Homo sapiens: one gene and its partner. The protein of the gene in region 2 purifies or fractionates together with the protein of the main gene of each other region. This does not show direct contact. Each region holds a gene or a part of one and is shown on either strand. Other genes may lie near its edges.

The links. The genes of interacting proteins can lie anywhere in the genome.
Region 1: the proteins of COL9A1 (region 2) and PPP1R12C purify together in Homo sapiens (affinity purification with mass spectrometry; 3 studies listed by BioGRID and IntAct, with this or other methods). This does not show direct contact.

The regions. Positions count from the first base shown.
Region 1 is NC_000019.10:55,090,407-55,093,676, forward strand, and holds the end of PPP1R12C (protein phosphatase 1 regulatory subunit 12C), read right to left. Parts: intron 2,828-3,270; coding exon 2,747-2,827; intron 2,671-2,746; coding exon 2,610-2,670; intron 2,463-2,609; coding exon 2,377-2,462; intron 2,257-2,376; coding exon 2,216-2,256; intron 2,139-2,215; coding exon 2,036-2,138; intron 1,921-2,035; coding exon 1,816-1,920; intron 1,504-1,815; coding exon 1,453-1,503; intron 1,295-1,452; coding exon 1,244-1,294; intron 1,153-1,243; coding exon 1,066-1,152; 3' UTR 512-1,065; downstream 1-511. UniProt on the Homo sapiens protein: Regulates myosin phosphatase activity.
Region 2 is NC_000006.12:70,216,076-70,223,125, forward strand, and holds the end of COL9A1 (collagen alpha-1(IX) chain isoform 1 precursor), read right to left. Parts: intron 1,007-7,050; coding exon 822-1,006; 3' UTR 51-821; downstream 1-50. UniProt on the Homo sapiens protein: Structural component of hyaline cartilage and vitreous of the eye.

The sequences.
Region 1 (3,270 bases), on a different chromosome or scaffold from region 2:
TTTTTGCATTTTTAGTAAAGAAGGGGTTTCACCATGTTGGCCAGGCTGGTCTCGAACTCCTGACCTCAAATGATCTGCCCGCCTCGGCCTCCCAAAGTGCTGGGATTACAGGCGTGAGCCACCACACCCGGCCAAAATTCCAGATTTTTACACACAAATTTCTCCAAATGTTAAATGTTGGCAATTGACTAAATTTGTTTCAAAGACACTGATGGCAAAACCCAAACTCCCCAGCTCCACATCCTTGGCCCCAGAGGTCTTGCCCGCTGATCCCTCCTGCCCCATCAGCTTCCCCTCAGCCCCCCGCCTGCGATCACGCGGGCTCCGTCTTGGAGCCTTCGCTCCCGCTGGGGGCTCATCCTGAAGCTCCTTCACCACACAGGTGAGTAAGCACCAGCCCATCCCCCGGCACCCACCCAAGTGGCCCAGTGGTTTGGTCATGGACACGCACGGCCCCCCAGCAGGAGCAGGAAACAGTGCCCTCCCTCTGGCTGGGAACACAGAGCTTGAGTGGCAACTTCACGACTTTTATTTGTGGTGCCTGTGCTTTATCTCGAAAATACCTTCTCCCCCTGCCCCAGACAGTGGGCGGGGAGGGGGCAGCAAAAAATAGAAGACGTCCCTCCCTATTGCACATGGACCCTATATACAGGCCCACCTGGCTGAGGCTGGCGGGACTCTTGGCACATTCTTGGATCCCTGCTCAGGAGGGGAGGGGTGACGGGGTGGCATCACACGTGAGATGGGGACCTCCAGGCGGCCACTCTGGTCCTGGCTACTGATCCTTGCACTTCTTGGTCCTCAGTTCCTTCCTGGTCCCGTCTCTGGCCCTGGTCCCCTCTGGCAACGTCCCCCTGCTTGGCTCGGCCTCCCACCTCCATCCTGGCCTCGGGTGGCCCCCTCGGCTCCTGGGGACTCTGCTCCCCTCCCAGTCCGGAGGTCCCAGGGGGGCTATGGCTTCTCTGAGACTTCCCCCGGAGCCCTGTCACTCGTGTTCACACGGGGGAAGGGGTGCGTGTGGCAGAAGCAGCTGTATAAATACGGGTGCGGGAAAGTCCCTCCGGGTCACTTGGAGAGTTTGCTGATGACGCGGATCAACGCTGCATTCTCATCCTTGAGGCGCTGGTTGTCAGCGCGGAGGTCAGACAGGGCCTGGGGGACGGCAAGGGTCAGCTGGGCAGCCCTGGCGGGTTGCACCCCCACCCACCCTCGGCCCTCTGCCCACAGCCCCCACAGCCCCCACCTTCAGCTCCTCCTCCAGCTCTGCGGCCTTGCGTTCCAGGGCCCTGCGCTCCTGGAATGAACAGGGAAAGTGCAGAAACTGAGTGAGGCTGAGGAGGGCAGGGGAAGGCCAGGGGCCAGCTGGGAAGGGCAATGTGGCTCCCTTGGTCCAAACTTAGGGATGTGAGGCTGGGGACGCCTCTGGCCCCCATCCCCACTGCCCCTACTCACGAATCTCTCCAGTTCCAGGAGGGCTGGCCTCTCAGCGAAGCGTTCTTGCCTCTGGTGAGGACACAGAAAGCACAGGGGTCAGCAGAAGAAGCCAGCACTGCTCTGAAGGGTCCTAGGCTCCTGCTGGGCACCCGCCCGCCCACTAGGCAGCCCACAAGCCCTTCCCCCACGGGCCAGGCCCCGCCACCGGCAGGCCCACAGCCCCATCCCCTCGCTCAGACTCCGCCTCCGAGATCTCGGCCCCGCCCCTCAAGTGAAGCCCAGCCCCGCCGGCACCCCCAGGCCAGGCTCTACCTCCCAGCAGTCTAAGCCCCACCCAGGCGGCCCTGCCAGTTCCCGTGACCCTGGCCTCGGCGCCCTTACCTGCGTGGCCCGCTCCAGCTCCACCTTGAGCTGCGCCAGCCGCAGCGTGGTCTCGGTCAGGGCCTCGCGAAGCCGCTCGTTCTCCCTGCGCAGCTCTGCATACAGCTGGGGGTCAGGTAGAGGAGGGTCAGGTGGAGGATGGGGCGATGCTGGGGGGGCGGGGAAGCCAGGAAGCTGGGCACCCAGCAGGCAAAGCCCCGACGGAGGGGTGGGATCGCACCGTCCTAAAGCCTCCGTCTGGCTCTTCCGATTCTGGCTCAGGTTCTGGGTTGAGGTCCCGCTGCCACCGCTGCCTGCGGGCCGAGGGGCCGCCCTCCAGGGTGCTGGGGCAGGGGAGGAGCGCGCGTCAGGGGCCGGCCCGGCCCGCACGCAGACCCCACCTCTCCCACCCCGCCCCTACCTGGACTCCTGGCTGCGGTCAGCCGGCTCCGCCTCCTCCCCCTGTGGGCAGGTAGACGGGGGTTCAATGGGTATGGGAGGGACTTTAGCGGGTATGGGAAGGGCTTTGCCCGCCCCCCGGCCCACCCTCTGCACCAGCTCGGCCCCACCTGAGCCCCTCACCTCCGCAGGCCCCCTCCACTCCTTTCCGACCTTGCGGTGCTCCCTGGCCGCCTGCGGTCCCGGACCCTGCCCGTCGGGCGCCTCTGCTGGGGGAGGGGCAGGAATCAGCCCAGGCACCTCCAGAGCCCCCTCTCGGTGCCTGGGTCCCCGGGTCAAGCCCCCAGGAAAGCAAGAAGACTATGGGAGAAACTGGATGATTCCCTGGGAATGACCTCCCCGAGAGCAGACCTCACCTCTCTGGGCAGGGCTGTCAGAGTTCTCCACTCCAGGGACGCGGGGCCTTCGGGAAGGGTCCTGTCGGGAGGGGGAGGCGAGTCAGGGAAGCAGGACATCCCGCACCACCCCACTCGCCCTCGCTGACCCCTCTCACCAGGCTCTGCGCCGGCTTCTCTGACTCTGGGGCCTTCCCTGCAGCCTTCTCTGCCTCCTTCAGGTCTGTAAGAGTCACACCCTGGCAGGGAAAGGGGACAGTCAGGGGACGCTGGGGTCAGGGCCCAGCCCCTCCTCCCTCAGACCCAGGAGCCCAGGCCCCAGCCCCTCCTCCCTCAGACCCAGGAGCCCAGACCCCAGCCCCTCCTCCCTCAGACCCAGGAGTCCAGACCTCCAGCCCCTCCTCCCTCAGACCCAGGAGTCCAGGCCCCAGCCCCTCCTCCCTCAGACCCAGGAGTCCAGACCTCCAGCCCCTCCTCCCTCAGACCCAGGAGTCCAGGCCCCAGCCCCTCCTCCCTCAGACCCAGGAGTCCAGACCTCCAGCCCCTCCTCCCTCAGACCCAGGAGCCCAGGCCCCAGCCCCTCCTCCCTCAGACCCAGGAGTCCAGACCTCCAGCCCCTCCTCCCTCAGACCCAGGAGCCCAGACCCCAGCCCCTCCTCCCTCAGACCCAGGAGCCCAGGCC
Region 2 (7,050 bases):
GTAACTTCTTTTCATTGAACATGATTATTTATAAGAAAACATGCAAGAGATTAAGAAACCATATTTATTTCTTCTTTGGTACAACCAGAGATGTTACCTCAAACCTTTAAAATAAATAATCTCATCAATAAAATTTATGAATGCCAGAGTATTAAAATTATTTCTTTGCTTTCACATAGAAGCGCTCAAAATATTAACAGGTTTGGGGTAAAGTACATACAGTTCAACAAAAGTTCAAGGTGAAGAAGGAAACCAATACATGACGTAAAGAAATCATTTCGGGAGATGTAGCCCTTTCTTATCACTCCAGAGACAGCACATCGATGAGATTTTAAGCACCAATTCCATTGAATGTAGTGGGGTTTCTTCATAACTAGTCTAGTAATCCTCTATATAACTGAAACAATAATCTGAGAACAACTTCTAAATGAAAATAACTACTGCAACTGAGGTAAACCAAACAGTTGTTTTTGTTTATTGGCACAGTGGCCCACGATAAGACACATAGGTATAGCACACTAAAGCTCAAGATCCTGGGAACAGGAGTATAAATTTATTCAAGGGAGGTGTTTGGTTTTCTTTTTTTTTTTTTAACTGATGACTCTGCTGTCTTCCCTCCAAGGGAAAGGAAAGAGAACTTACTGAATAGCACCGTTCTTCTATATGTGATTGTCAAGTAGGACTTCTGTAATCATACTGAAGGTAATACATTGTAATCATGCTGAAGGTAATCATCTTTGCCCCAGCTTTGGATGGTGTTTCTCACCCAGGCTCCTTCACCAGGCGTGGTTCATGCAGACAGCCATGCAGCAGTAAGCCTTTCAAGGGTCAGGCCCTTTGTTAAATGCTCGCTGACCAGCCTGCATGGTGCAGGAGGCTGGCTCACAGAAACCGGGAAGCCCAGGAGGTCCCGGGGGTCCAGGCACTCCAGGAATTCCTGCCACCCCTGGGGGGCCTCGCTCACCGTCTCGGCCATTTCTGCCATAGCTGGCAGGGCCTGGGTCACCTGAAACACACAGAAGATTGCACATGTGAACAGGAGAATCCTCATTGATGCAAACTGGCAGAGGGCATGGCTCAGCAGCGCTCAGATAAGGGGTTTAACAAACGCTTTTGGAAGCGATGGATGATGACTGGTGATGATTGGTGATGATGATGATGATGATGATAATAAGATCCCTTCCTTGGACTTGGGTTTTCATGGAAATTAAAAGCAGAAAGAGACCTCAGTGTCTCTAACCCCCATTTCCATCAGTAGAGCTGCACCGTGCACCATGGTAGCCTCCAGCCACAGGTGCCTATTGAGAGCTGAAATGTGATGAGGCCAAATGGAGATGAACTAAGGATCAAACACACCTGGATTTTAAAGACTTGATATGAAAAAATGTAAAATAGTTCATTAATAATTTTTGTGTCTATTACATGATGAAATGATCTTTTGCACACAGTGGGTTAAGTAAACTATATTATTAAAATTAATGTCACTTGATTATTTTTACCTTTTTCATGTGGCTACTTGATTTAAAATCATACATGCAACTCACATTTGTGGCTCACATTATATTTCTTTTGAATGCAAGTAGCAGTATTCCTTACTTCTAAGAGTTGAGCAACATCCGGGCAGGGAGAAGTATAGTTTAGCGGTTAAAAACACAGGTTTTGGAGACAAATAGCTTTACATTCTAGCCCTATCATTTATGAAAAATGTGACATTAGCAAGTCACTAATCTCTCAGTTTCTTCATCTACAAGATGGGATAATGTCTTCCTAATAATTAAATTCAGGCCAGGTGCAGTGGCTCATGCCTGTAATCCCAGCACTTTGGGAAGCCAAGGTGGGCAGATCACCTGAGGTCAGGAGTTTGAGATCAGCCTGGCCAAAATGGTGAAACCTCATTTCTACTAAAAATACAAAAAAATTAGCCAGGTATGGTGGTGTATGCCTGTAGTCCTAGCTACTCAGGAGGCTGAGGCAGGAGAATTACTTGCACCCGGGAGGCAGAGGTTGCAGTGAGCCGAGATCGCGCCACTGCACTCCAGCCTGGGCGATAGAACAAGACTTCGTCTTAAAAATAATAATAATAATAATTCTACAATTGGAAGCACCTGATAAATAGGGGCTATTATTACAATTATTAAGATATTATTGATTAATGTCTTTTAGAAGGCTGTGCCATGTGCCCTACAAATTTTCATATTTTTCTCATGAAGGGCTGACCCCAACATGAACTTTGCAATAGCAGGTTCTCTGGGGGACATTTCTTGCTTGTCTTCCTTTTGTCGTGTTTAAGGGTTGTATGTTGCCCTCAATGGGGCACACTCTCTGAGGCACAGCACCCCATAACAAAGAGGAATTTCTGCTGAATGTTTACCCCAGTGCACTAGCAGCACTTTCACACAATTATTGCAAAAGTGGTGATGAGAAGTCAGTGTAAAACAAATTGTGTATGCCAAAATAATATAGGGATCCTCATTCCATCTCAGCCATCTTAACCTGGTCTTTCAGCCAAAAAGCCGGAAGCCAAATCTACATGTTCAACTACATATTTGCTTATATTTGGTTACTCTCCTTCTTTCTCTGTGGTTTTTACTTTTCTTTTTCTATTTCAGTTGTCTTTTTATATGTCTTTTGTTGGTCTTACTGTAGTAATATGGTCTTATTCATATATATCTCACATATTTTTAGAAGGAAGGTAGGTTAGAGATCCTGCTTTACATAACATCTCATTCTTCCTCTGGTGCATACACTTCGATCCACACAAAGCAATGTCATAGGGCAATATATTAATAAGTTTTAAGGGAGAATAATTATCTTTGAATTTATCCATCTCAAAGCTATAGATAAGCAGAGATATAAGTAATTTTCCCTAATTTATCCCATATACTTTCATTCAACTATACCTAGTAAGTATGAAGCAGATCATTATGTGTTTTCTTTTAATGATGAGGTCCCTGAGAAAGCTTCTCCCTAATCCACAGCATCTATAGATAAAGCTGTAGCAGAACTATGCCCTTAGCAGCACCTGTTAAGATCCTTAACACCAGATGCAGTTAAAGGTGAAGTTGATTTTTTTAAGGTTTAAAAGATGAGCCAGATCTAAATCCGATTTTCATGCACCTTATCACTAGGAATGTTCCCACTGAGACATACCAGGTGTGCCTTAAAATCAAATCAAGTTTAGGAGAAGGAAATGCCCAAAGAAGAGGTAGAAAACCAAATGAGCACAGGGGCTGGGATGGTCATTGAGATCAGGGGTGGGCAAACTTCAGCTCATGAGCTAAATCTTGTTTTTGTAGTTTTATTAGAACACGACCATGGTCATTTGTTTACATATTGTCTGTGGCTGCTTTGGCGTACCAGGGCAGAGTTAAATAGCTGCAATATGGTGCCCATAGCCAAATAATCTGATCCTTCACAAATAAAGTTTGCTGATCCCTGATGTTATAAAGAAACAAGCCTGGATTAAGAAATTCCCCCACTGTTTTTACCAGATGAAAACGTAAAGTACAAATGCAATGAAATTTGGCCACTAATATTCCACGTAAGTGTTGGGGAGACCAAAGGGAGGAGTGAGGCCTGTGGTGAGCTGGAAAGTGGATGCGGGCAGCAGCTCTTCTCCAGCTAACAGCTGTCATCGGGGAATACAGGCCAGTGTTGCCAGAACTTCTGATAATTTTCAAGAGAGGCCAGGAAGCTGAGTCTTTAAATAAATATCTCCCAATGTTTAAATGTTAGCAACTAATTCAAATTTTTTTCAACATTTGTAGAGCCAGCCAAAAACCTTAAGTTTTAAGTAATTTATTCTCTAATACACTAACAATATTAAAAAGCAGAAGGATAGCTTTTTAGATTTTCACATTTGGTTCCCCATCAACACACTTCAGGAGAAGTTTTTCTTTTTCTTTTTTACCTTGCTGAGTTTATTCCAAATTGCTGCTTATCCTCTGAAGGAAGAGTCGATGAAGCCATCCTGTCTACCCTTGATTTATTTTATGAAGCATGCATCTCATCCAGTTCTGCCTTTGGCAAATGCAGCAATTTACCCTTTGGAGCTTTTGATGATGTCATCATCATCATCATCATCATCATCATCACCACAAATGCTTAATGAGAATGCTTTCTCTTTTCCATGGGCATACACTATGCTCATTATTGAGCCCATTTTTCTCATGCATAAACTGAGAGTTAGGAAGGTCAAATAATTGTCCATAGTCATATAGCCAGAAATGAGGACCCTTAACCACTGCACTAACTGTATTTTCCTACCTATTGATTTTTTTAACTCTGTGGAAGGGTGTGGAGGGGTGTGGCAGGGTGTGTGTGTGTGTGTGTGTGTGTGTGTGGTCATTTTTTTTAATTCCTTGGGCCTGAGTTGACCAGGAAGTAGACAGAGGTACAAAAACAAAGCACAGTATTGACTTTTGCAGAGCTCTAATGATCATAAGAAACTAAGATATTTCTCTGAGGTTTTGCCCTGTAGAAATACCAGAGAAAAAAAAACAGCCTTAACATAGCAGATTGTCAGGCTCTGGAAAGCCCTGACCCAGGGCCTTTGCTCTCATGTATGTTCTAAACTATGTGGGAGCCTCAGTTGGGTGACACTATGTCCACAGTCCACATCACTCAAAAAGTGAAGCTGACTCATAATAACGGTTCACAAAATGGGCATAAATGGTTAGCCCAGCAGCTACATTCATGAATATCTATCAACTGCTTTGTAACTCTTCAGAAAGAGAAAACATGCATCTAAAGTGTTATTCTGCTCTGCCTGCCTCATGTGTGTATTACTTACACTAACTGCCTAATGATTACATGGTTTTCTGAAATGTCAAGGACCTATAAATATGTTGAATATTCCCAATACAAAGAAATGATAAATGTTTGAGATGATGGATATACTAATTACCCTAATCTGGTCATTATGTAATATTTCTATTGAAACATTACTACATATCCCATAAATATGTATAACTATTATATGTCAATTAAAATAAAATAAAATATTTAAAATTATTGCTAAACGTTTTTTTTTTAAACAAATGAATAGCTATGTCATTCTCTATAAAACCACTAGAGGGTAGTCATGTTACACTGATGGAAGCCCATCTCGGCTGGATCATTCTGGAGGCAGCCCCTCACCTAATACATGCTGTGGCGTAAAAGGGACTGTGTATACAGTCAAAACAAAAAAAGTGAATAATTTTCACATTAAATAGGGTATTTCATAATTAATCCACTGGTTATGTAGACTTTTTGTATGTACCAGGAGTTTCTTATATTTCTTGAGCTTAATGTTGTGGTATTTGACAAAGCAGTATATGTTTAAGGAATTATAAACTGGTTTATGTAAGGCCCAGCAACCAAATAAAACAGCTGCAGCAATGGAAATGGAAAAATTAGGTACTGAAAAACTTAGCCCAGAACTGAATGTGTGCGTGTGTATTTTTCCACTCAATAGTCTCAAGCAAAGCTCACCTTTCTGTGGACTTTGCACAAGAAAACCAAATACTCTTATAACCTAGCATAGTCCAGCACAAAGCCAGCTACAACTTCCATGTCCAAGAGGCAAAAAGCACCTTAGCTCACAAGTCACCTTCCTAGTGTTCACATTCAAATGATTTGTCATTTAATTTATGTTTTGCCCTAGTGAGTGCACAAAGAGGAAGTCAGGACTCTTTATTATTAATAAATATGTTCCTTTAAAATTCTCAGAGTGACGAGGAACTAGTCCCAATGGGCAAGTTTGGTGGCAGCAGAGAGAGTCTTTGAGACAACCGACCAAGCAATAACACTAGCTGACCTGTGGCACAAAACTGAAGGCGGGGGAGACTAAAGTTCCAGGGATTGCTAATGTGATCCACGTAGCTCTGCAAGAGAGGCAGAGAAAGAAGCGAGACACTCAGCAATTATGGGACATGCTCAATTCACATGTCTAGGTTGCAAAGAAAAACTAATCGTATGATTAGACAGCCAGCCAATCATTCTGTCCACTTTGGGAACATAGACTCAGGAAGCATGAATATCTGTCTTGTTATTACCTGACAGACTTTTGTCAGGACATGAATTTAAGAGTCTGTATTTTCTCAAATATATTATAAAAAAAGGGAGCAACAATAATAACAGTTAAATTTCACTAAATAATGTCAGAGTGTCTGTTTGCCATATGCCAGGCACTGTTCCAAGAGCTTTACATGTATTAACATGTGCATATATGCTCTAAATACAAGGTAGGCATAGTGATTCCCATTCACTGAAGAGGAAACTGAAGCACTTCAAGGTAAAAGAATAGTGCATAAGCCCTGGCAGCCTGGCTCCATGTCTGCACTTCTTAAATATTCACCCAGCCTACTCCTGGCTGTGAGAAACAAACTAGATTGTGCATGTGTACTTTTTAAACAACAAAGCACTGTAGCCAAAATGATCATCAATGTAAAGGTTATAATAATAACCTGTGTTCCATAACAAGCAATGAGCATTATGTCCCTGCAGGGCATGTAATACTTAACACTGAACAAACAGAGATACAGCATTGGAGAGGGGAGACAGGGAACTAAAACTGTCCAGAAAGAATACAGGAACTCTAACAACCGATAGAAAATGATGATATTAGTTACATCGTTAAAAATATGTTAAATGCCTTAGCACAAAGAATGATCCAACTATCTTTTTTTTTTTTATTCAGGAGGATTTGAGCCCCAAATCCAACAACAGGAACAACAAAGAAGGTTGCAGACTATGCTGTTCTGCAGTTTCTTTATTTTAGGTAAGAAAAGAATTTTTTTATCTAGACGGTTCCAGACAAATTACTGCACAGAATCCTTTTGAAGTTTCATCAGGCCTTAAAGTCCTATTAATATTATGTTTTTGAGAGATCAGAAATCACATTCCTAGTCACATTCAAGCTCTACCAAGAAATAAAAAGCAGTATAGCCTCAGTGGACAATTAACCAGTGAAAAGATGTACTGCTACCCAGTACTTCGCATTTGTGATTTGGAGTTGAAGTAGACTTTCATGGAGGGAAGGTCTGGGCATCAGGGGCGGTGCTGATT